5 separate regions of the Homo sapiens genome follow, and regions 1, 2, 4 and 5 are each linked to region 3. The links come from fine-mapping of genetic effects on gene expression. A gene starts in region 3. Each other region holds a variant in brackets. All regions are shown on one strand. Distances are between the middles of the regions. Region 1 overlaps SUSD6 (sushi domain containing 6). Region 2 overlaps SUSD6 (sushi domain containing 6). Region 3 holds the start of SUSD6 (sushi domain containing 6). Region 4 overlaps ERH (ERH mRNA splicing and mitosis factor). Region 5 overlaps SUSD6 (sushi domain containing 6).

What was found. PIP is the estimated chance that this variant, and not a neighbour inherited with it, causes the effect. A credible set is the group of variants that fine-mapping cannot tell apart.
Region 1: its variant is the best candidate, but not a certain one, in a credible set for the expression of SUSD6 in whole blood (TOPMed, PIP 0.58).
Region 2: its variant is the best candidate, but not a certain one, in a credible set for the expression of SUSD6 in whole blood (INTERVAL, PIP 0.70).
Region 4: its variant is the best candidate, but not a certain one, in a credible set for the expression of SUSD6 in whole blood (TOPMed, PIP 0.59).
Region 5: its variant is the best candidate, but not a certain one, in a credible set for the expression of SUSD6 in whole blood (TOPMed, PIP 0.66).

The regions. Positions count from the first base shown.
Region 1 is chr14:69,636,016-69,641,118 of GRCh38, forward strand. The region is part of intron 1 of SUSD6 (sushi domain containing 6); the gene reads left to right. Among named protein-coding and RNA genes, the nearest start is that of SUSD6, 27 kb to the left of the region's middle. RefSeq lists enhancers at 1,658-1,707, 1,743-2,255. The variant C/T (reference allele first, on the strand shown) is at 2,284.
Region 2 is chr14:69,714,492-69,719,582 of GRCh38, forward strand. It overlaps SUSD6 (sushi domain containing 6), which reads left to right. Exons shown (of 6, transcript NM_014734.4): 6 at 1-653. Among named protein-coding and RNA genes, the nearest start is that of SRSF5, 50 kb to the right of the region's middle. The variant G/A (reference allele first, on the strand shown) is at 2,160.
Region 3 is chr14:69,609,130-69,614,232 of GRCh38, forward strand. It overlaps SUSD6 (sushi domain containing 6), which reads left to right and starts at 2,467. Exons shown (of 6, transcript NM_014734.4): 1 at 2,467-2,699. RefSeq lists a silencer at 2,216-2,985.
Region 4 is chr14:69,386,643-69,391,745 of GRCh38, forward strand. It overlaps ERH (ERH mRNA splicing and mitosis factor), which reads right to left. Exons shown (of 4, transcript NM_004450.3): 3 at 321-441. Among named protein-coding and RNA genes, the nearest start is that of ERH, 9.1 kb to the right of the region's middle. The variant C/T (reference allele first, on the strand shown) is at 2,215.
Region 5 is chr14:69,687,693-69,692,795 of GRCh38, forward strand. All of the region lies in intron 2 of SUSD6 (sushi domain containing 6), which reads left to right. Among named protein-coding and RNA genes, the nearest start is that of SRSF5, 77 kb to the right of the region's middle. RefSeq lists a silencer at 620-914. The variant G/A (reference allele first, on the strand shown) is at 3,139.

The sequences.
Region 1 (5,103 bases), 27 kb after region 3:
CCTCTTATTCTCTTTCTGCACAGTTTTTAGTCAGCTAGTGGGTGTGGACATGCATCTTTGTTTTACTATGAGAAGAGGAGGAATTGTGCCTTAGCAGTTGAATAACTGTGCCTTCTATTTAGATTCTGTAGAGGGTTACACTCAAAGCTAATGAGTGCTTTCTTCCACTCTGCACACACTCTTGCTGCCTGGAGTGGGCGGCAGGCTATAGAACCACAATAGAGCAAGTACTGTTGCTGTTGAAGGCATAGACGGAGGTGACAGTAAGGGCAGCTAGGCCCTGAAATTCCAGTGGCTCAGACCCCTGGCTGATGGCTTACCTCCTGAGGTGAGACCAAGAGGAAGGCCTTCAGCTTCCCTGAAATGAGTGCTTCTCACAGTTAAGGTAGTGTGACCAGCCAGGGGTAGGGACTGGCTTCCTGAGGAAGAGGGTGGGAGAGCCTTAATTAAGCCTGCCTGGTTTGGCAGTACCTCAGACTCGCCTCCTCTTTCTGTGTTGGCTGATAATTTCCTTCAGCTCTTAGAACAACTCTTCATTTCCTGGGGGAACCCATTGTTGCCAATATACACTCACAGAGCCTATCTCCGGTACTGCCATGTGTGCTTTCTGCCTCCTTTCCAGAAGAGGCAGGTAGCCAGTCTTTTTTTCTCATGAGCTGTTCCTACCTTGTTGGAGTTCCTGGAGGCTAGTGCTGCTGGACCTCCAGTCTGGCAGAGGCCTGGACGAGAGCTATTCCTTGGGTTCTCAGAACAGACCTAGCCTAGTGGAGAACAGTTCTGGGCCTGGCTCTGTGTCCAGAAGGGCTCAGTCAGTGGTCAGATTCTGATTGGGAGATATATGAGGAAACTTTGTTTGGTGAGAGTTAGGAGAATGGGGTTCTGGTTCAGCCATTCTCTCAAGAAGTCATGATCATTTGATAGGCCTCAGTTTTCCTCTCCTAAAATGGGTAGATTGGATTTTATAAGATGATCCCAAAGTTCCTTAAGGCAGTAATGTGTTAGGATTCCGTGACAAACCCGGGAGTCTGCCCCTGGTCTAGGTGACCAAAGTTAGCAAAGGCTGGGACAGCACAGATTGCAGTTCCCAGGTCTCTTTTGCCTCCCAGCTTTTTGATGTGTTTCTTCTCCTTGGAATGCCCCACCACTCCCTGTACCCACCTCTTTCTGCTCTGTCTGGCTAATACCTTCTAAAGCCAGGTATCAGCTTAGACTGCCGCTTGCCCCATACTTGTGTGGGTGCCTCTCCTTGGTGCTGGCATTACACCCTGTGCTCAGTACTTACCGCACCATATTACCGTCTGTTTCCTTGTTCTTCCTGACCTTACCTGAGCTTCTTGAGGGCAGAGACTGTCTGCTATCACCACTGTATCCCTCATTGCTGGTGCAGCGCCTGGGATGTGGTATATACACAGCAAATGTTGAAGGAATGAATGTCCCCCCCTAACCAGGGTCAGCATACCCCAGTGCGCTCTGGGAACTGTTCTCTGACCCTCTCCACCCTTACCCTGCCTAAGGCTCTCTCTTTCTGAGCTGTGTGTGGGTGCTGGAGAGCCTTGGATAATGCTGAGTTGTTTTTGAAGTGTGTCTCATTGTGGCAAAGCATTGGGTGATGTTGCCATCCCCACCCCCAGGACACTCTTGCAAGAATTGCTTCCACCAGGGATGGGCATTGACTTTGACCTGGTCCTCCTCATCTCCAGCCCTGGAGGAGGGGCAGGCAAGCACGTGCAGATTGCTGTCCTCTGACCAGCTGCCCAGGGCTGGGCCATCTGCTGCTTGTGACAGCGGGTGGGGTGAGAGGGGTGAGTGACCTGTGCAGGGGAGGGAGTGTGGGGCAGCAGCATAGTCACTTCAGTGCACTGACTGCATGACAGAGTCCAGCCCCCCTTCTCCCCACGTTCTATCTTCTTTTCCAGTGCTCAGTTATGCTATGCTTCATCCAGGTCTTGGTTTTGTTCCAGCTGCTGCCCCCCACCACTCTGCTAGGAGAACTCTTGCTGTGTTTTTGTTAACTCTGTGTGTGTGCTTTGCCCTTTTGCCTATGCCTCCAAGAATCTTTATGTTACATAAGACAGCAGCAGCAAAAAACAGAAACAAAAACAAAAAATGTTAGAAATGAAACTTTGGACCCTTGTTATTCTCTGTTCAGATGCAAATGATGAATCTCTTTCCATCAGAGTTTATACCTTTCTGTTTACCACCCCGTTTTCTGTCCCTCCTCCTGGAGAGCCTTTGAATGGCAGGGATGGGCTGAATCACTCACTTGGAAGGACTGTAATTTAG[C/T]TTGTGCTTCAAACCTTGCCTCTTTCTGGCCTTGTAAGGACCTAAGAAAGACGCAAAAAGGAAGTAATCTACCCCCATCACTCTTGGTGTGAGTTTGAAGGTTCTGAACTGGGGTGGGGTGGGGAGTGTGTGTGTGTGTGTGTGTGTGTGTGTGTGTGTGTAATTGTGTGTGTGTGGGATTGAAGGATGAGGGTTGTGGACAGTCTTAAAAGCCACCTTTACCAAATGAAGAGGTGACAAAGCAGGGACTGGAAGGGCAGCATACCCTAACCAGGACTTCCCCAAACTTTAACATGCATATGAATCACCTGGGGAACCTTACTAAAATGCAGATTCTGATTCAGTAGATCTGGGATGAAGGCTGAAATTCTTCATTTCTAACAAGCTCCCAGGTGCTGCCAGTGCTGCTGTTAATGGACCATACTTTGAATAGTAAGGCTGTGTCCTTCCTATTCCACCTTTTAATAGTTGATTTAAAAGACTGACCTAGGGAAGGCAAGACAGGGGCTAGTCAGGACTTGCGTAATTTAAACCCAAGGTCCTGGGCTGGCTTCTCAGCCAGTGTCTACAGAGCCTTTTAGGCGGGCCCCTCTTATCTAAGCTGCTGGCTTCTCTGAGCTCCTTTGGTCCAGTTTGGTTTCCAAGGTATAAGAACCACAGCCCTTCAGAGGGTGTGTGTGCTTACTCACAACAAGATTGGGTCCTTGCCCGTTTCTCTTTGGATCATTAGAAGTAGATAAGGCCAGGCCGGGTGCAGTGGCTCACGCCTGTAATCCCAGCACTTTGGGAGGCTGAGGCGGGTGGATCACAAGGTCAGGAGATTGAGGTCTCGATCCTGGCTAACACGGTGAAACCCCGTCTCTACTAAAAATACAAAAAATTAGCCAGGCGTTGTGGCGGGCACCTGTAGTCCCAGCTACTCGGGAGGCTGAGGCAGGAGAATGGCGTGAACCCGGGAGGCGGAGCTTGCAGTGAGCCGGGATCCAGCCTGGGCAACACAGCGAGACTCCGTCTCAAAAAAAAAAAAAAAAAAAAAAAAAAGAAATAAGGCCAAACCTAGCGTTTAAAACAGAAGTTTAGAGCTGAAAGAACTTTTACTCTTTTCCAGTTTATTTTACTGAGGGGGAAATGGGCCCAGAAAAGTTTTGTTACATGTCCAGAATCACAGCCAGGGGCAGAGCTGGGGTGAAAAACCAGATATCTTAATTCCCAAGCCCCTCTCTGAGGGAGTGTAAACCTGAGTTAGAGATGAGAGAATCACGGAGTTGGTCTGGGGACATGCTGGTTGGACAAAAAGGCTTTCCAGTGGTTTGGGGGAGTTTTGCACCACATGTACAACTAAGGTGGATCAACTGACATCTTGGCAGCCCATCCTTTGTTCACTTAGGCCAGGGCTTTCATCTGCAGCATCACTGATGTTGGATCAAGTGATTCTTTGTTGTATGGGGTTGTCCTGTGTGTTGTGGGATGTTTAGTTGACATGCCTTGCTCTATCCATTAGATACCAGTAGCACCTTACCCCCAAGGTGTGACAACCAAATATGCCTCTAGACATTGCCAAATGGGGGAGGTGGCACAAAATTGGTCCCAGTTAGAAAACCACTGGTTCAGGCAACTAGTATTTTGGGGAAGAGAGTCCCTCTGGGGCACCTACACTGTTTTTTTTTTTTTTTTTTTTTTTGCGGGGGGAAGTGTGCATTAGTCTCAGATTATAAAGGTAGCATGGGTACCAGCCTTCCTGGGAGTTTATTTACAGTTTAGTTTATAGTTTAGTGGGGGAGGGAGGAACCACGAAACTATTAACTATAGACTCCCGGGAAAGCTCCCACCTTAATGCCTCCTCCAGGATGTGTAGAGACCCAGGCTGGACTCTGAAGAATGGGGTCAAAGCCCAGGGTGCTTAATGAGGAAGAGATTTTGCTGTCCTGGGCTGGATTGCATAGCTAAGAACTGAGTAACTATCATTCACTTACTCCTTAAGAGAATTCTTCCATTCTGAAAAAAATTTATATATATATACACACACACATATAATATATAATATATATATTTGGAGACAAGATCTTACTCTGTTGCCCAGGTTGGAGTGCAGTAGCACAATCATAGCTTACTGTAACCTCGAACTCCTTGGCTCAAGTGATTTCTCCTGTCTCAGTCTCCCGAGTAGCCAGGACTACAGGTGCACACCACCACACCTGGCTGATTTTCTTTTTATTTTTTGTAGAGACAGGGTCTCACTCTGTTGCCCAGGTGGTTTCAAACTCCTCACCTTGAGTGATCCTTCTGCCTCAGCCTCCCAAAGCACTGGGATTACAGGCATGAGCCACTGCACCTGGTGTGAAAAATAAATTTTATCTGAATTTGTAGAGGGCAGTGAGACACATTAACCAACAAATATCTACACTTGAAGGGAGAGAGACCAGCTCAAGCCTGACATTGGTAGACTAACTCCTTATTTTTTATTTCTAACTTGATTTTATTCTGATATGGGATGAATCCTCTGATAGCTTTTCCTGTCTCTTTTCCAGTGTGTTAAGTGATTATTGCTGTAAGACTGGAATTACAGTCTGTAACGTTCTGAGGACATAGATATAAAACATGGGTAAATGCCCTTTTTAGATGTGAGCCTAAGAAAGGGTTTTTATCCTTTTTCAGTTTCAGAGGATACTGTACTTGCAAATGCTTTTAAGGCCACAGAGTTCTCACCCTTGTACTCAACACTAGGCCTTCCTAAATATTATTCCAGTGCACAAAAAGCATTAGTGATGGAATGGAGCCTCCATTGCCTCCTGGCTTGCATTATTCCTGACACTGAATCTG
Region 2 (5,091 bases), 110 kb after region 3:
TAATGCCAAGGACAGCGAGTGAGGCTGGGAGCTTCTCTTGGGCCTGCTGGGTCTGTCAGCTCTCGGAATAGGGACAGTCCTTACTGGTGCCCCAAGGTGGGACTTGGAGAATATTTTGCTTGGCATATGTTTGGTCTGAATGGTGTAGTTGCTGGTTCCCTAGAGAGGAAAAGGTGGCAGGCCCAGCTTTGCTGGGAAATGGCTCTTAATTTCCAGTTGAAACCCTAGTAGAATTGTGAATGAAAACCTCAAGGTTGAGCCCCTCTGCCAAGCAGCAGAGCTAGTAGAAGGGGATGCAGGGGCAAAGCACTCAGTTGCCAAGCAAGGAGGAGAGATGTACGTGGGCTGTGTGGCAGTCCCCACACCCTGCCCTGGCTTCTTCAGGTTATCGCACCACTATGGAATCCTTTGCAGAATGGTACTCATATAATGGTTTAAAACAACACATTCATAATTGACTCTGTGCAGGATGTCACTCAATCAGTTTGGGTTTGCTTTATTTTATTTTATATATATATTTTTTGGTATCCTGTACATTGCAGTGGGTGTGAAGATAGTATTTTAATATTTGTACAAAGTTTAATTTAATTTTAATTGTTCTATGTATATAACTGCATTTCTAAATAATTAAAAAAAAGTTCTTATGAAGGCAATTCTGGGAGATGTGATCCTTCCTGAAAGTTTTTGCAGAAACCTTAGATTGAAAGAGCATATGTGGGCAGGAGGTCATGGAAGGATGAGGCACTAGCTCTGTAGGGAGGGTGCCTGGCAAGAGGTGGAGGAGCCAGGATGGAGAGCACTTTGGGAGGCCAAGGCAGTTGGATCACTTGAGACTAGGAGTTTGAGATCAGCCTGGCCAACATAGCAAAAGTCCATCTCTACTAAAAATACAAAAATTAGCTGGGCGCGGTGGTGCATGCTTGTAATCCCATCTACTTGGGAGGCTGAGGCCGGAGAATCGCTTGAACCCAGAAGACGGAGGTTGCAGCCAGCTGAGATTGCACCATTGTACTCCAGCCTGGGCGACAGAGCGAGACTGTCTCAAAAAATAAATAAATAAAGAAGTCTTGGCCAGGCGCGGTGGCTCACGCCTGTAATCCCAACACTTTGGGAGGCCGAGACAGGCGGACCACGAGGTCAGGAGATGGAGACCATCCTGGCTAACACGGTGAAACCCTGTCTCTACTAAAAATACAGAAAAAAAAAAAAAAAAACCCCGGCATGGTGGCAGGTGCCTGTAGTCCCAGCTACTCAGGAGGCTGAGGCGGGAGAATGGCGTGAACCCAGGATGCGGAGCTTGCAGTGAGTCGAGATCGCACCACTGCACTCCAGCCTGGGCAACAGAGCAAGACTCTTGTCTCAAAAAAAAAAAAACAAAACACAGGAGTCTTGACCACCAAATCTTCAGTATGGTGGGGTGCGGGTGCTTGGGCAAGGGAGGGACAACAGCAAAGGGAGGTTCAAACCGGGCAGAAAGCCACCACAGCTTCAGTGTGGCAAGGAGCACATTTGAAATGAGCTCACAAAAGGAAGGCTTTGGATTATATTCCTGGAAAGGGCAGATGTCTTGGAGCAGACGGGAAGAGAGAAGGAACTGTGGTGATGGCTCCCAAAACACCAAGGGTTTCAGGAAGAAGGCAGTGAGGTCCAAGTTAAAATAAGGGAAGCATTCTATTTATCTGGGGAAACTATGGCAACAGTAGGCATTGCCGGCAGTTCAGTGGGCAGGAGCAGTGAGGAGGGCAGGAACACAGGGAGAAATGGTGGGAATGCATTCAGGGAAGCCAAAAGCAAAAGATAGCTGGCAGCATGCCAGGATTCATGTTGATGCAAGCCAGCGTCTACTGAGTGCTTCCGTATGTACCAGGCGCCCTTCTAGGCTCTTGGCCTGCAGTAACTCCAGATCTGGCAGCTGCACCAGGGGGTGGGCATTCTGATTAACCCTGACTTTGCAGGTGAAGAAACAGGCTCAAAATAGTGTAGCGAAGCTTTATTATAAAGTCACACAGCTCTGAAATGATGGAAATTGGGACTCAAACATGATTGTCTCACAGCCCAGTGTCTTAATATCTGCCTCAAAGAACACTGCCCACAGCATGCAGGCTTCTTTATGTTGCAAGAACAGAAAACCCCACTGGCTTAAGCCACAATGCGCAGCT[G/A]ATTCAACACCCAGCACCCCACTTCCAGGCTAATTCTACCAAGACCTGGCTTGAATGACATCATTTTCTTTCTCAGAAACTCTTCATGAGTCTTGCTTTATTGTTTAGAGCAGGAAAGAAAATAAACCACAAACCCTCAGTAGTCATTTGTTTCAAATGCCCAGTTTTACAGACGAGGGCACTGATGTGCATGGCTGTACTCTGATTTGATCAAGACCACATGGCTAGTTGGTGGCAGAGCTGGGCTGAAATTCTAAGCCCCTAGTCCAGGTCCAGTGTGTGTCCCTGTCCCACCATCTTCAGCAAGTCCACTCTCTTCTGCTTGGCTTTGGAGCCCAGCCCCATCCTGTTCTCCAACACAACTTCCCTCTGCATCCTGAACACCTATGACTCACTGCGCTAGAGTCACCGTGGCTCCCTTGGCCCTGAATGCTGCTCCTGGAGAGGTTGGAAGGAAGAGCGACACCTGAGGACAAACTCCTGTATTAGTCCATTCTCATGCTGCTATGAAGAAATAACATGAGACTGGGTAATTTATGAAGAAAAGAAGTTTAATTAACTCATGGTTCTGCGTGGTTGGGGAAGCCTCAGGAAACTCACAATCATGAGGGAAGGCTCCTCTTCACAGGGTAGCAGGAGAGAGAATGAGTGCCAAGCGAAGGGGGAAGACCCTTATAAAACCATCACATCGGCCAGGCACAGTGGCTCATGTCTGTAATCCCAGCACTTTGGGAGGCCGAGGGGGATGGATTACCTGAGGTCAGGAGTTCGAGACAAGCCTGGCCAACATGGTGAAACCCCATCTCTACTAAAAATACAAAAATTAGCCAGGCCTGGTGGCTTATGCCTGTAATCCCAGCTACTTGGGAGGCTGAGGCATAAGGATCGCTTGAACCCGGGAGGCAGAGGTTGCAGTGAGCTGAGATTGCGCTACTGCACTCCAGCCTGGGCAATAGAGCGAGATTCAGTCTCAAACAAACAAAAAACAAAAACAAACCATCACATCTTGTGAGAATTCACGATCATGAGAACAGCATGGGGGAAACTGTCCCCATGATTCAATTACCTCCACCTGGTCCCGCCCTTGATATGTGGGGATTATTACAATTCAAGGTGAGATTTGGATGGGGACACAGAGTCAAACCATATCACCTCCTGAGGCAGCCTAGGTGTCTGGGGGAAGTTCTGAGAAGCTCTTCACTCCTTTCCTAGTTCCTTCAGATCAGGGCTGGGCAGGAGGCAAGGAAAAGAGCCCCAGTATGAATAGGGAATACTTCCCAGAGTTCAAGACCTGGGGCAGCACTTTATTTTCCTTCCTGTCTTGATCTCAACCTGAGGCTGTGGCCCATCTGCAGCCTAGACTATGGAGAGGAGACTAGGGAAGGAAGAGAGCTGCCTTGTTTATCACCTGCTTCCACCTCACTGGGTGACAGGCGGCCTCTTTCCCCTGCATTGGAAGTGGCAGGAGAGGAGGGAGCTCAGAGGCAAGGGTAGTGAGACTCTGGCTGGCCAGAGGCACTGCTGCTGAATCCCCCACTCTGGTAGTGGGAAGGCCCGGCTGAAAGGAGACTCCTTCTTTTCTCCACAGGCCTTGGAATGAGAAGAAGGGATCACAGGGAGATTCTGAGTGGCCCAGTCCATGGTAGAAGCTGGCTGGTCTGCCTTCCCAGCAGCGGCCCAGGGTGGGGGAAATGGCACTGTCCCAACCTTGCCCACTCAAGTGATCCCAGAAGCCAAGCTGCATACAGAGTGGGTCTCACGGTCTGTCTTCAAGATGAGAGGCGACAGCAGCAAATGCAGTTGTGCCCCAATAGGGACTTTGGTCTGGTGGGGAGCACGTGGGGGAGTGTTGGCTCCACAGGACATTTACCACACAGCTTCCCTTTCCCCAACCTTCCGTGATGTTTGCTGAGCACCTAATAGGTTCCCGGGACTGGGTAAGGTGCTTTAAAGATACTATTTTAGGCCAGGAGAAATGGCTCATGGCTGCAATCCCAGCACTTTGGGAGGTCGAGGTGGGAGGGATCACTTGAGGCCAAGAGTTTGAGACCAGCCTGGGCAACAGAGCAAGATCCTATCTCTTCAAAAAATTTTAAAAATTAGCCGGGTGAGGTGGTTTGCACCTGTAGTCCCAGGTACTCAGGAGGCTGAGGTGGGAGGACTGCTTGAGCCCAGGAGGTTGAGGCTGCAGTGAGCTATGATTGCTTCACTGCACTCCAGCCTGGGCAACAGAGTGAGACCCTGTCTCCAAAACAAAGAAACAAAAAAGAGACAGAGAGAGAGAGGTGTTATTTTAATCAATCAACTCAGCCAGTCTTGCAAGGCAGATGTCATTACCCTTTTTACAGGTGAGGACAGTAAGGCTCAGAGAGATTCAAGTACAGTCCAAGACCACATAGGTCATGCATCCTCAGCTGAGTTGCGGTTTGAATTCAGGTGTGCCACTCCTGGCCTCTTCACCTCACGCTGCTCACTTGCTCACCTCTTCTACTCCCCAGCTTTTCTCCCTGGGTTCTTGATCACCTGACCCCTTCACACCTACTATCCTGCCCAAGAATCCCTCTCAGCAATGTCCAAAACCAGGACACCAAGCCATTTAGCAAAATGCAGTCCCAGATGCTCAGCAGTCTCAGCAGTCAGGATGGGTTCTGGGTCCCTGGAAAGATCAGGCAAGGCCAGGAGACCCAGGCAGCCCCTGTCTCCTCCCTGGGCCTTGCTTCTGAAAGGTGAGGAGAATGCTCTGTATTCTCAGGTCTTCCCACTTCTCCTTGGGACTAGAGCTGGGGGCACTTGCCAGGCTTTTCTCTTTCTGTTACTGAAAAGGGAATTTCATCAGCTGTGAACCTGGGGTGAGACATGACACATTCCCAAGTTGAGCCTAGGTTCATCCTCCAAGCTGCCTGGTGATGAAGGAGCATTACCGGGCTTGGGG
Region 3 (5,103 bases):
GTGAGCTCAGATCATGCCACTGCACTCCAGCCTGGGCGACAGAGCAAGACTCCGTCAAAATAAATAAATAAATAATTAAATATTTAAAATGTTTAAAAATTTTAATTTAATACTTTTCTGTGGCACTTTGGGGCTCAACCAAAGTGCCACAGAAAAGTAGAAGCAGCAGCCTTGGGAAGATTCTGAAGGGTAAGTAGAGAAGGCCTTCAAGATTGAGGAAACAGCATGGGCACCTGGTTTGTGACAGGAATGGCTTGTTAGAGACCAGCAGGTGGTATGGGGAGGCTGGAGTGGGGTGTGTGGAGGGATGGAGAGCATTTGGGCCGGACTGTGGACAGCACAGGATACTACAGTCCTTGCTGATGACTTTGAGTTCATTCTGTGGACCCTGAAGGTCTGGGAGAGGATTTTTTTTTTTTGAGACAGTCTCACTCTGTCACCCAGGCTGGAATGCAATGGCACGATCTCGGCTCACTGCAACCTCTGCTTCCTGAGTTCAAGCAATTCTCCTGCCTCAGGCTCCTGAATAGCTAGGATTACAGGCATGTGCCACCACGCCTGGCTAATTTTTGTATTTTTAGTAGAGAAGGGGTTTCGCCATGTTGTCCAGGCTGGTCTCAAACTCCTGACTTCGTGATCTGCCTGCCTTAGCCTCCCAAAGTGCTGGGATTACAGGCGTGAGCTACCGCGCCCGACTGAGGATTTTTGGGTAGTGATGGACAGATCTGCATAGGGTCTCACAAGGGATTTTATAAGGTGGCAGTTCTTGTATGAAGTTACTGAGCCTCTTAATGGCCAAACTGACTTCAGTGCACAGCCAGGGGCTCAGTTACTTTGGCAGTTGATCTGACCTGAACCATCCATGCCTGCTTTCTTCCCTTTCCTTTCTTTCTTTTTCTCCTTCCTCCATTCATCTTCTCCAATTCTTCCTCCATCCCTTTCCCTTGCTTCCTTCCCCCTTGTCCCCTCCCTGAGCCTTGGGTCTGCCTGGCATGTTCCTGCTGCCCACACTGATTTGGTTGTGCTCTGAGGCAGACCCAGGTAGTTCTGAATTGTGCTTTTCAATCTTCTAGTGGTCTGGGCAGTGTGGCCCCAAATGAGCAGGAAGGGAGGGGTGCCCATCTTCTCTAATGAGTCTGGACCCAAGAAGGCAAGGAAGAAAGAAGGCAGAACAAGGATAGACTTATGAAAAAGGCATTATAGCAACGAGCCACAGGTTGCTGTGGGGCCCAGAAGGGAAGGGTTCTTTTGGGGATGGGTCTGTGTGCATGGGGAGGAGCATCCTGTTTATTTGGTTCAAGCTACTTCACAAGGACATGCCCTGTTAATTCACAGTGCTTTTCCCGAAAGCCTACTAGAACTAGGCCTGGTGAGAGGCCCTGAGAAGGTGTATCCTTTTGTCCAAGAGCATCTGGGAGAAGAGGCCTGCCTGACCCAAGCTGCAGCAAAGACACAAGTCTGTAGGTCCAGATGTGGACTCTACCACTGATTTACAAGTAGGAGTTCCTTAACACTTATGGAGGACCTCTGAGACCGACACGGTGCAAGGCCCTGGGGTACAAAGATAAAAAGCCAGAGTCCTCCCCATCAAGGCGCCACGGGCCCTGTAAACACATAAACCGAGGACACACTGCATGAGAGATCACCAATAAACGATGTAGCCATACAGTGCACAAACTGCTCACTCAGTATGTGCTAGAAAATAGCCCCAGAAGGCAAGGCTCAAGAGGGGAAATACAGTTAGGAATGTGGCAGGCTTCTAGCCCGGGCTCTGCCAGTCCTGGCTCTGAACTGCGGTTTTCTCAACCTTGAGATCCCTTGTGTGCTTTTAGTATGCTGAAGGATCACTCACTTCAGAATGCTAGTGAAAATACAGATTCCCAAGTCCGACCCCACTGAATCACAATGGCTGGAGGTCATTCGGGGCCCCGAATCTGCATTTTCACCCCCACCCACCCCCCGGGCAGCTTTAATGTTGGCAGGCTAGGAACCACAGTTCGGATTACTGCTTAACAGGGAGATAATAACCTGCTTCAGACGAGCTAGGTCAGACGAGCAATTCAAGAGCTAACAAGGCAACATGCGCCAAAAGCCTTGTAAACCTCAGGGCAGTACAATTCTTTGCAAATAATAGTAATTCAATCATGCAAATAATAATAATAGTAAACGAACTGGAGAGCGCACTGGAAACGCCGCATAGTCCAGCTGAGTCGGTGCCACCGCCCCATCCACTCCAGCGCAGAGGGACTGTCTCTTTAAGGACCCCCCACCTCCCCAACCGCGTCGCTTCTCCCTTGGGTACCTGGCCCGGCCGGCGGCGCGTGCGTGCAGGGCCTCCCGGCGGGGCGGTCGCGGCGGCGCGACGCCGGCGCCGTTGCGTGCGCGCCTGGCCCTGCCCCTTTCCCGCCCCTTCCCCGCCCCCTCCCCTCCGCGGGGCCTCCCCCGCCCGCGCGGTACAGCTGGGTCAGTGACGCGGGCGCTGCAGCCGTCGCTACCGCCGCGTTCTATTCTCCGAAGCCGGCGACCGCCCCACCTCCTCCCTCCCTCCCGCCCGCTTCCTCTGCCCACAGCGCCGGCCAGAGCGAGCTAGACAAGGGCACGCGGGGCCTCGCCTAGACCCGAGAAGACTGCGGGCGCGCGCAAGCGGCGGCGTGGAAGCTGTGAGCGCCCCCATCCCGGAGGTCTCCGCCGGCTCCCGGGTGAGTTGTCACCGCGGCCCGGGGGCGGCGGGGCCGGCATTGTGCCATCGACGCGCTCGGCCGGCTGTCAGGGGCGCGGGACCAGCGCGCACCGCCCAGGAGTGACGCTGGCCGGAGCCCGGGCCGGCTTCGGCGGCTCCCCGCGCTTCTCTGCGCCGGCCCGCTGTCACCCGGCCGCGAGCCGCGCCGCTGGGAGCCCCGCGCTGGCGTGGCGCGGCCAGCCGGCCAGCAGTGGGGGCTGCGCGGCCGGGGGGACCGGCGGCTGGTTTGCGGCCGGGAACTTGGTGACCCGCGGTCCGGGGCGCGCCGTCCCGCGTCGCTGCCCGGGCAGCACCGGAAGAGCCAGACGCCGTGCCGATGGGTGCAGAGGAGGTAGGCAGAGGCCCTCTGTGCCACTGTCATTACTGCCCTCAGCCCAGCAAAGCTGCGGGGCTTGCGCTGGGGCAGGGCTGGCTTAGAGAAGGTGGATTTCCTGAGGAAATCTCAGAGCCCGCCTGTGCGCACCGCGGCATTCGGGAGCCCCCGCGCCTCGGCTGCTCTTTAATCTCAAAAACTTCTCTTATTAACCAGGCTAAACTCCCCGAAACCAGCTATTTTCTTTCAAAAAGTAGGCACGTACATACAGACTTTCCTTTTTTCGCTTGGTTTTGAGACCCCAGCTATGAGTGTGGATCTGACTCTCCCTCATGGGAGTCGTGGCTGGGGAGCTGCTGAAGTGGAGAAAAGTTACCCTGGACGAATTTAGGAGCAGGAGGGGGAGGTGGTTATGGGGACAGCAAGACCCAGGAGCAAAGAGGCGTCAAAATAAAGTCTTGGGCTGGTTAAAGGGAAGTTGGCGTCTGGGCAAGGAGGCCTAAAGCTGTTGTTCCCACAGAATTTTCTTTCAGTGGCAGGCGACATGCTGGGCTTTGTTGCTCTCGCTAACTGGGCTCCTGTGTGCTCTTCCAGAGGTGCAGTAAGATTACTCAGTTCAATTAGGCCTAGGGATTTACTCCCTTTTTTGATCTACAGAGATGGGAAGTATGTCTTTCCTTCACAGTAGTTAATTCATTTCTTGCTGTTTTCGTTCCTCTGGTGTAAAAACATACATAGGAGTTACGCACACACACCTTTTCTGTTTTGGGAATTCCACACCCAAACTGTCACCATCTAGTGGAGGCTAGTAGAGACATGTGCTTGGCACTGACTTCTGAGTTCTCTGGGTTTTGTGTTTTTAGCTAGAAGCATATTCAACCAGAAATTAAAATTTTCCTGGAGTTGGGGGAGGTATGTCTACATCTCAGGAAAGAAGGTATTTAAGCAGCAATAATATGGAAAGGTTCTTGAGGACTTACTGAGTACCAACCTTTGTGCTAAGGGCTTTACTTTTTTGAACTCATTTAATAACAGACTTTTGATGTAGATATTATTATCCCCATTCTTCTAGTTGAGACCCAAACCAAACAAGTTAAATAACTCGCCCATGTCACATAGGTATCTCATGGTGGAGCCCACAGTCTGAACTACTAGATTATACTGCTAGTTTCTGGTTTGTTTACCTTTTGATAAAATTGAACCTGGAGTCTTTCTAAAACCTTCTGAAAGCACTGCTGCTTCAGGCTGTTTCTCAGATCATGAGCATTCTAAACTCTTTCTCCTGGGTACACACTTACGGTATGTTTGCATAAGATTCATTTGTTCATTCTTTCATTCAGTACTCCCAAGTAGTTATGTGATACCGAATGTATGCCAGGCACTGTGCTAGGTATTGCAGGTACTGCATTGAATAAGTCAGAATCCAGCTCTCATGGACTCACAGCCTTTAAGTCCATTTGTTTTGGTTTATGTTGTTAGCTTTCATTGCTGGCCATTTGCTGCTGAAGGAACTTCTGCCCAGCGAGTTAAACAGAGGACAGTATTGGTATGAGTCCTGATAGATAGGACTTCCTGTCTGCAGAGTAATTTTTTGGATACTGTAGTAGAAATGGCATATGAAACAAATCCTCACTTACACCTAGATAGAGACAGGTGCCAGGGTGCTCAGTGTTTAAACCCTGAGAGCAAACCCACTGTCAAATGGGCAAGTTTGACTTCTTTCGCTGAAGCCTGCCTTCTGAAAGCCCAGAATTTGGTGAGATAGAAGAGAAAGAAGGGTAGAATGAGGTGTTACAGATACAGGCTGGCAGATAAAGAGACCTCAGCACTTTGTCTGTTTTCCTGGTCAGTCTCTGAGGTGTGGTGATTGAACTTGTGTTCTTTTTTATTTTTTATTTTTTTTGAGATGGAGTCTCGCTCTGTCACCCGGGCTGGAGTGCAGTGGCACGATCTCGGCTCACTGCAACCTTCACCTCCCAGGTTCAAACGATTCTCTGCCTCAGCCTCCTGAGCAGCTGGGACTACAGGTGCGTGTCATCACGCCTGGCTA
Region 4 (5,103 bases), 220 kb before region 3:
AAACCAATGGCTTTAAGACAAAGACTGTAAAGGAAAAAAAAAATTAGGTATAAGGAACAAAGAAGAGGCACATGGAACTTCTGAATTAGGATCCTTTCTGGATACTAACTATATCAATTAGCAAAGTTATTTTTTTCTGTGCCTTTGGCTTTATGTTGCCAATCTCTTATTTCTGTAAGAGAAATATTAATTACTATACACTATGCAAATGCAAAGATCAGTATCAGGCACATAATTAGCTCCCAATACCATAAATCACCTCAAACAGACAGAAAAGCAATAGAAAATACAAGATAAAAGACATGTTGGCTAATACTTACACCAGGCAGCTGAGGTCTGCCAGATCATCGATGAAATCAAACAACTGACTGATGTCATATGTGATAGAGGGACTGTTGGGATTCATTCTTTTCAGATGTTCTTCATACATTTTACAAACACCTAAGAAAGGATAGGAAAAAAAGCAAAATCTTACAATCGCATACACTTCTAGATATGAGCAGTGCTTATGAGCTGTGCTATATGTTGATATCATATTTACTTTAATAAAGTTGGGCTGGGGAAAAGATGATAGATTGATGGCTTTTGATTATTGCCACTAGCAAATACTTTTTTATTTTATAAATTCACCAGGTCAGGTGTAGTGGCTTACGCCTGTAATCCCAGCTCTTTGGGAGGCTGAGGCAGGAGCATCACTTGAGCCCCACAGTTTAAGACCAGCCTGCCTGGGCAACACAGGGAGACCTCATCTCTACAAAAATTAAAAAATTAGCCAGGCGTGATGGCGTGTGCTTGTGGTCCCAGCTACCTGGGAAGCTGAGGTGGGAGAATCACTTGGCTGCAGTGAGCCGTGATTGCATCACTGCACTCCAGTCTGGGCAGCTGAGAAATTCACCACAATGTTGATGTAACTATTTTGTGTCTTAATAATAAAATGATTACTTCAAACCACTGGAGCTAAGGGGCTTTAAAGACTTGCCATCTGATGGCTCAAACAAATAACACTGTGGGTCTTAACAGGTTTTTCAGTAATTCTTCCTAAAGCCACAGAGCAAAAAAAAAAAAAAAATTGGCAACAAGGAAAGAGATTATCCTAATGTATATTTAAGATCCTAGACTAGGCCGGGCACAGTGGCTCACGCCTGTAATCCCAGCACTTTGGGAGGCCAAGGCGGGCGGATCACGAGGTCAGGAGATAGAGACCATCCTGGCCAACACAGTGAAACCCTGTCTCTACTAAAAAAATACAAAAAATTAGCCAGGCATGGTGGCAGGCACCTGTAGCCCCAGCTACTCGGGAGGCTGAAGCAGGAGAATGGCATGAACCTGGGAGGTGGAGATTGCAGTGAGCCGAGATCGGCCACTGCACTCCAGCCCGGGTGACAGAGCAAGACTCTGTCTCAAACAAACAAACAAACAAAAAATCCTAGACTATGGATTCAGACAGACTTTAGTTCCAACTCTGCCCCTGTCAAACCGAGGACAAACGACGCCATTCCCTGAACCACACCTGTCAAACAGAGTTAAGAGTGCCTCTTCATAGAATTGTGAGGTTTATTTGAAATAATACACATAAAGCATTAGCACATGAACAAGGATATAAGTACTTAAATATAATAAAAAAGATAATGAGCAAAATCATTAATAGCAAGCCCACATTACTAATTATAATTAGCTATAGAGTATATTATCTATTTAGTTTTTATTCAATAATACTCTCCTTTTTTTTTTCTTTGAGATGGAGTTTTGCTCTTGTTGCCCAGGCTGGAATGCAATGATGAGATCTTGGCTCACTGCAACCTCCGCCTCCTGGGTTCAAGCGATTCTCCTGCCTCAGCCCCCCAAGTAGCTGGGATTACAGGCACCCGCCACCACACCCAGCTAACTTTTTGTATTTTTAGTAGAGACGGGGTTTTACCATGTTGGCCAGGCTGATCTTGAACTCCTGACCTCAGGTGATCAGCGTGCCTCAGCCTCCCAAAGGGCTGGGATTACAGGCTTGAGCCATCGTGCCCGGCCTGATACTCTCCTTTCTTATTCCCACAAAAGGAGAATACACCTTTTCAGTCTATTCCCGCTGTCAACTATTTTAAGACTACTATGATGAATGGCTAAGTGACATAAATGCTAGTTATCTAGAAAAAACATGTCCTATACTGTATACATAAGCCTTTTATTAGCTCCAAATTAACTTTATAAATTTCCTAATAAAAA[C/T]ACTATTCAACCACAGAACTATTAAACAACTATCTTAGGGCTTTTTATTGCTACTGGCATACTACATTGTGATCACAGAATATCACCCATGAGTTAATGAATGGAAAGAAAATAAAAACTAGGAAAATAAATTCGTATATGTTAAAAAGGCATTGACCCACAGTTATACTTTTTTTTTTTGAGATGGATTTTTTGCTCTTGTTGCCCAGGCTGGAGTGCATTGGCACAATCTCGGCTCACTGCAACCTCTGCCTCCCGGATTCAAGCGATTCTCTTGCCTCAGGCTCAGCCTCCCGAGTAGCTGAGATTACAGGTGTGTGCCACCACACCCGGCTAATTTTTGTATTTTTAGTAGAGACGGGGTTTTGCGATTTTGGCCAGGCTGGTCTTGAACTCTTGACCTCAGGTGATCCACCCGCGTCGGCCTCCCAAAGTGCTGGGATTACAGGCATAAGCCACCATGCCCGGCCTCCATTATACTTAATGGTTAAAGACGGGATGCTTTTCTGTTAAGATTAGGAAGAATACCAGAATATTTATTGCGCTACTTGTATTCAACATTGTACTAGAAGTTCTAGCCAGGGCAATTAGGCAAGAAAAAGAGATAACAGGCCTTCAGATTGGAAAGGAAGAAGTACAGCCATCATTATTTGCAGATGACATTATCTTACAGATATAAAATCCTAAGGAAACAATAAAAATCTATTAGAACTAAGAAATGAGTACAGCAAGGTTGCAGGATATAGGATTGGTATATGAAAATAAATTTTATTTCTATGCCTTAACAACAAGTCTGAAAATAAAATTAAGAAAACTCCATTTATAACAGCGTAAAAAAGAATAAAATTCTTAGAAATAAACGAAACAAAAGTAGTACAAAACGTGTACACCCTACACTATAAAATGTCATGGAAGGACTCTTTTCTTTCCCTTGAGACACAGTCTCATTCTGTTGCCCAGGCTGGAGTGCAGTGGCCCAATTGCAGCTCACTGCAGCCTTGACCTCTTAAGTTCAAGTGATCCTCCCAAGGATCTGTGACTACAGGTACGCGCCACCATGCCCAGCTAATTTTTGTACTTTTTGGAGAGCAGGGGTTTCATCATGTTGCCCAGGCTAGTCTCAAACTCCTGGGCTCAAGCAATCCGCTCACCTTGGCCTCCCAAAGTCCTGGGATAACAGGTGTGAGCCACCACGCCATGCAGAAAGTAAAGCCACCACACCATGCTTAATAAATGGAAAGACATCCCATGTTCATGAGTTGGAAGACCTGATGCCAATACTCCCTCAGATGATCTACGGATTCAACGCAATTCCCATAAAAATCCAAGCTGTTTTTGCAGAAACCAACAAGCTAATCCTAAGTTTGACACAGAAATGCAGGAGACCCAAGACAGCCAAAATAATCTTGAAAAAGAAAAACACTGGAGGATTCAAACTTCCTGATTTCAAAACTTACTATGAAACTACTCCAATCAAGACAATATGGTATTGGCATCAGGATAGGTATCTACATCAATGGAACAGAAATGAGAGTCCAGAAACAAACCCTCACATTTATGGTCAACTGCTTTTTGACAAGCATGCCAAAACAATTCAACAAAGAACAGTATTTTCAACAAATGATGCTAGGACAACAGGATAGTCACATGTGAAAGAATGAAGTTGGACACATCTCTACAACAGACCAGAGACTTAAAAGTAGGAGCCCAAACTATAAGACCCATAGAAAAAAATAAAGGCATTAATATTTGTGACCTTGGATAAACCAATGGTTTCTTAGATATGACACCAAAAACACAAAAATATGCAAGTTAAAGTTTATAAAAATAAAAAACTTTTGTGCTCCAAAAGACACTATTAAGAAAGTGAGAAGACACCACAAACGGGGAGAAAACCTTTATAAAACATCTATCTGATAAAGGACTAATGTCTAAAAATATACAAAGAACTCCTAAAACTTAACCATAATCACTCAATGAAAAATAGGCAGAAGATCTGGATACCTCAATAAAGATGCAGATGGCAAATAAGCACATGAAAAGATGACATTGTATGTCATTAGGGAATTGCAAATTAAAACAATAAGATACCTTAGAATGGCTAAAATCTAAATCAGTGACAACACCAAATGCTGGTAAGGATGTGGAACAGAAACTCATTCACGCTGGTGGGAATGCAAAATGGTCCTGCCACGTCTGAAGACAGTTTGGCAGTTTCTGACAAAGCTAAACATACTTGTACCACATAATCTAGCAATCACTCTCCTACGTATTTACGCAAATGAGCTGAAAACTTAGGTCCACACAAAAGCCTACACAGAAATGTTTATAGCAGCTTTATTCATAATTGCCAAAAAATAGAAGCAACCAAGATGCTCTTCAATAAGTGAATGGATAACCAAACCATGGTACATTCATTCAAGGGAATATTATTCAGCAATAAAAAGAAATCAGCTATGCAGCCACACACACAAAAAGTAAGAACCATAAAAGCATACTGCTAGGTTGGCCAGGCATGGGGGCTCATGCCTGTGATCCCCAGACTTTGGGAGGCTGAGGTGGACGGATCACTTGAGGTCAGGAGTTTGAGACCAGCCTGGCCTACACAGTAAAACCCGTCTCTACTAAAAATACAAAAAAAGGTAGCCAGGCATGGTGGCGCAGGCCTGTAATCCCAGCTACTTGGGTGGCTGAGGCAGGAGAATCGCTTGAACCAGGGAGGCAGAGGTTGCAGTGAGCTGAGATTACGTCACAGCATTCCAGCCTGGGTGACAGAGTAAGACTCTGTCTCGCACGCCAAAAAAAAAAAAAAAAAAAAAAAAAAAGCATATTGCTAGGTTAAAGCAGCCAGTCTGAAAAGGCTTCATACTCCGTAACTCTAACATGACA
Region 5 (5,103 bases), 79 kb after region 3:
TCTAATTATAGCAGTATTGTGGGCTTCTCCCATGCCTGGCTGGCCACGACATGGAGTTGATAAGCATACAGTGTCTTTCGTACTTGCCGTTACAACTGTTAATTAAGAGAATTCAGCTGTGGCACCAGCTGGGGATGTCTGGCTTTGTGGAAGATTGCAATTAGATGCTTTTTTTTCTTTTTGTTTTTTTTCTTTTTTTTCCCTTTTCAACTTTGGTGGAATGCCTTTGAGTAGGGGCTTTTAGTCTCAGCAGTATAAATACTTTATAATGTGCCTAATTATGTAATTATACAGTTATACTCTTCTGTGTACACACACATTGTTTTATGAATTTGTATGCCCTTTTCTAATACATGAAACATCTAGCCTGCTTTTTGGTTGTTGTGGTAGAGCCAGACTCCTCTCTGCATTGGGCAGAAAGAAGAAGACTAGATGTATTTACTGATTAGCTTCTGATTATGATCTGCCCTACTTCTGTTCCTCTTCCACCTCCCTCTTGACCCTCTATCTCCCAAATAATTAGCATCTTAGTAGCTACCTAGCAAAGTCAAGGTAATTTGAATAAAATTGGATTGTATAATACTCTTATCTTTCCATTAGTTTGCAAATGTAGTCCTTCAAAGTGTGTAGTGTTATTTTTCCCAGTCCTCTGTTCTAGGCAGTTATAGAGCATGAGCCTGGACGTGAGAGCTCATGCATGCATGCAGGCACAATGGGACCCATTGATTTCTGGCATTCAGCTTGTGCATAGAGGACCTGTGACCCCAGCTGTTAGAACCAGGACCTGGGAGCAGCTGCTTTCTGGATCCAGTCCTCCAGGGATAGGCCATCTGCTGCCATGTGAGAGAACCCTGGAAAAGAAACTGACCACAAGATATCTTTGTATTCCTTTTCTGTGTGCTCCAGCCCCTTTAGTTCTTTCCTGTCCCCTCTCACCTAGGCAAACTTGAGAAGCATGATGAATCTGCACTGGAAAACTCGCAATGGATTTTCCGTTTTCTTCCCCTTTCCCCACTCCACCCTGTCAGCACATCCAGCCCATTGGAAAATAGTTTCCAGGGGATGTAGGCAGACTTATATGGGCAGCTTCTTCAGTGGGATTGGTACTATTTAGCAGGCTTTCATTTTATTATGAATAACATGGCTTTGCATTATAGGCCTAGAAGTGTCCTTAAAATCTCATCTCATGGAAGAGGAACCCAAGATTCCACATTCTTTAGCCTTGCATTCAGGGCCTACCCTCTTCTGGCACCAGCCTGATTTTCTAAATGTTCAGTTATCTCCTGCTAAACCTGGAAACATTTGCTAACTTCTCCGTACACATACCACCTCTTCTTGATTCTCTGCCTTTGTTTGTGCCTTTATGTCCCCCACCATGTTCTTCCCACTCTCCTTTATCCCCGTCATAATCCTTTATCCCGTACTCATGATCCTACTTCCCGTGAAGTTGGAGCTCTGATACCATTTCTACAATCTTCTTTGGTCTCTTCCCCATTGGATTAATCCTTCTTCAGAACTTTCTGTAGCCCATATTGATTTCTAACATATATCTATTATAGTCGTTTATTAGAAAGCTCCTAGAGTGTAGGACCAATATCTTTTTATCTTTCCACCTGCCTACCTTCACCTGCCACAGTGCTTTTGGTACTTAGTAAAAACTTGTTGAAAAAATGAATGGCAGAATTAAGCTGAGGGAAGAGAAAAAAAGAATGAATGGGTAAATATAATCCTTACATGGATTCTGGAAGAGAAGCAGTAGATATTACTATTATTTTAATCTTGTTGGGGCTCCTTATCTGTATTCCCAAAGAGACTGAAGTCTCCTCAAGGGCACACCATGTGTATTATTTGCCCTTGAATTTCTAGCAGCAGCCTAACACATAGTGCTTAATAGAAATTTGTTAAATTAATGAAGGAATTTGTTAGGAAAGTGAAACCTGGAGAGAATAAGAATCAACACTTGTAAATACTTTTAAAAATTTGTTTAATTTTTTGAGATGGAGTCTCGCTCTCACCAGGCTGGAGTGCAGTGGCATGATGTCCACTTACTGAAGCCTCCACCTCCTGGCTTCAAGCAATTCTCATGACAAGCCCTCCCGAGTAGCTGGAATTACAGGTGTGTGCCACGTTGCCTGGCTAATTTTTGTATTTTTGGTGGATACAAGGTTTTACCATGTTGGCCAGGCTGATCTCGATCTCCTGGCCTCAAGTGATCCGCCTGTCTTGGTCTCCCAAAGTGCTGGGATTACAGGCCTAAGACACCATGCCCGTGTTTTTTTACTCTCTTTTGAGTGAAAGTTATTAGTTATTAAACCTGCTGTCTGGAGGACAAGAGATTAAAGGTATTTTCTGTACATCAATGTGGCATTTAGACATAGTTATCTACCAACATGCAGTGTGTGTGAGGCTGTCCGAGGCATTGTCTTCTGACTGGGCATCTCAGACTGGTCAGTCAAAAGTGGCTTGCGAGAGACTAGGGTCCAAAGAGCCAAAGAGGCCATGACAGGTGACAGGGGCATGGTCCTCACCCTGATAAATAAGCATGGTTGAGACTCTACTCCTGACTGTTAGCTAGTTTAGGCCCAAGTTTCACTATTTTGAGGTTGTTTTGTTTTACTAGAGCCAGACCAATATGTACACAGGCTAACATCAAAGGCCAGTCCTAGACCTTCAGGGCCAGGCATCCATCCTTCTTTGGACTTTGCAGCAGGCTTGAATGCATTCCTGTTGTTTTTAAAGATCCTTAAAGAGGCTTAAATGTGGCTTCCTCAGAGAAAAGCATGTGGGAAGGATTCAAAGAGAAAGCTTGTAAGAGGAGCAGAGGGATCTTCCAGGAGCACGGTATGCTGAGCAAGATGCAAAAGTTCAAAGTAGTGAAGAAGAGAACTCCTAGGGGGATTTGACTCCTCACTGTCCAGAATCAGTTGGTGAAAGTTCCCCTCTGGAGAAGTGCAAAGGAAACCAAGAAGGCATGGCAAACTGCTTTTCCCGTGGTGGTCATTTGGGAGAAGGTGGTTTAAAATTTTGTGATTTAAGATTGTTCAAAACAGAGAATCTCATCCCGCACAAGATGAAGGAGGAAGAATATCCAGGTCAATGGACTTGGTAACTTCCGCTCCACCTGCCTGTGCACAGTGA[G/A]TACAGAGTTCCTTAGGCTTGTTGGTTTAGAGGCAATAGAGATGAGACTTGTGGCTTCGTCCAGCCTTCTCCCCCCGCACCAAAAAACCACACACCTTTTATTGTCTCTTTTGTATTTGTAGTCCCTGTCTCATGGTGGGACCCCACCCCCCAGAATGTACAGGGCTCACTTCATGGTATGCCTTAGACCCAGTCACATCTCTTTCTTCAGAAAAGACCATTCAGGGCTGGGTGCAGTGGCTCACATCTGTAATCCTACCTAGCACTTTGGGAGGTTGAAGCAGGTGCATCACCTGAGGTCAGGAGTTCAAGACCAGCCCAGGCAACATGGCGAAACCCTGTCCTTACTAAAAATACAAAAAATTAGCCGGACTTGGTGGTGTGCACCTGTAATCCCAGCTACACAAGAGGCTGAGGCATGAGAATTGCTTCAACCTGGGAGAAGGCAGAGGTTGCAGTGAGCCAAGACAAGATCGTGCCACTAGACACCAGCCTGGGCAACAGAGCAAAACTCTATCTCAAAACAACAGCGACAAAAAACCCATTCAGACCTCCACCCCTCAACTGCTGGTGTTTCTCAAAGACCTATGGTGTTTTGCTGATTTGGGGCCATTGCCTCAGTGGATTTCTGTTACCATCCATAACTAGAGTTTACTGGTGTTTCCTTTCTTTCTTTGCGGTTGTCTAGGCCTTTGTGAGTAGCAGTGGCCTGTTGAGTGCCTAAGAGAATCAGCACACTACCTGACCCCCTGTTTGGGAGTATGTGGCAGAGGCTGTTTATTTCAGGCTTTGGCAGTGATAACCCAGTGGCCCTGTGTGTTCTGGGCAGTGGCAGAAAGGTAGCCCTCTAATTCCAGGTCACATCCCCATTCTGCATTTAGTGACAACCTTCCTTTCACATATCCGTCTTAGAAGTCTTGTGTTCTCAGCCAGGCTTGGTGGCTCACGCCTGTAATCCCAGTACTTTGGGAGGCTGAGGCGGGTGGATTACCTGAGGTCAGGTGTTCAAGACCAGCCTAGCCAACATGGTGAAACCTGTCTCTACCGAAAATACAAAAATTAGCCCGGTGTGGTGGCACACACCTGTAGTCCCAGCTACTCAGGAGGCTGAGGCAGGAGAATTGCTTGAACCCGGGAGGCGGAGGTTGCAGTGAGCTGAGATCATGCCACTGCACTCCAGCTTGGGTGACAGAGTGAGACTCCGTCTCAAAAAAAAAAAAAAAAAAGAAGTCATGTGTTCTCAGCTGAAAATGCCTACATATCTTCTCCCACTTGCAACTTTGCTGTCTGTGATCCTTAAATAGCTCCATTGTGTGTAGTACACAGAAATTAGTGAAGGAAACTGTCCTGCCTTTTCCCTCCACTTCTCTGGAAAAATGTGGCCCCACCTGAGATATGAACTGAGTCCTCTGGGCACAACTAAACTCACCAGGCCATATTCTTCTCCAAACAGGAATTATAGCAGCTTTTGTCCATATGTATCCCACCCCTATGTTATACTTTGTAGGTCTTGGGGTAAATTTTTTTCTGGTGGCATCAGAAAAAATCAAGAAGCTTCCTTGTAGAAGGGCCAGCCAGAATTTGAATGCAGACTCTAGTACTTAGAATCCAGGTGACCTCAGTCCATTACTAAATTTTTCAGAGCCTCAGTTTTTTCTGAACAAATCAAGTTTTATACCACCTTCTTCCTAGGGTGGAAGAATTTAATAGGATAACACTTTTAAAGTACCAGTGCAGTGCCTGGTGATAAATGTTAATTCTCTTCCTTACTTGTATCCTTTTGGCAACAGAGATCATTAAATTTGTTTTAAATTTGATTGTGTGTTTCTTGAGGCCCTGCTGTGTATGCCTGGGACTGTACTTGGCATTAGGAGTTACCATTAGCTGGTAGGATTGGAAATGAAACCACAATTTTGGCCTTTGTACCCAAGAGTCCAACCCTGTTTTAAACTCTAAGCCAGACTC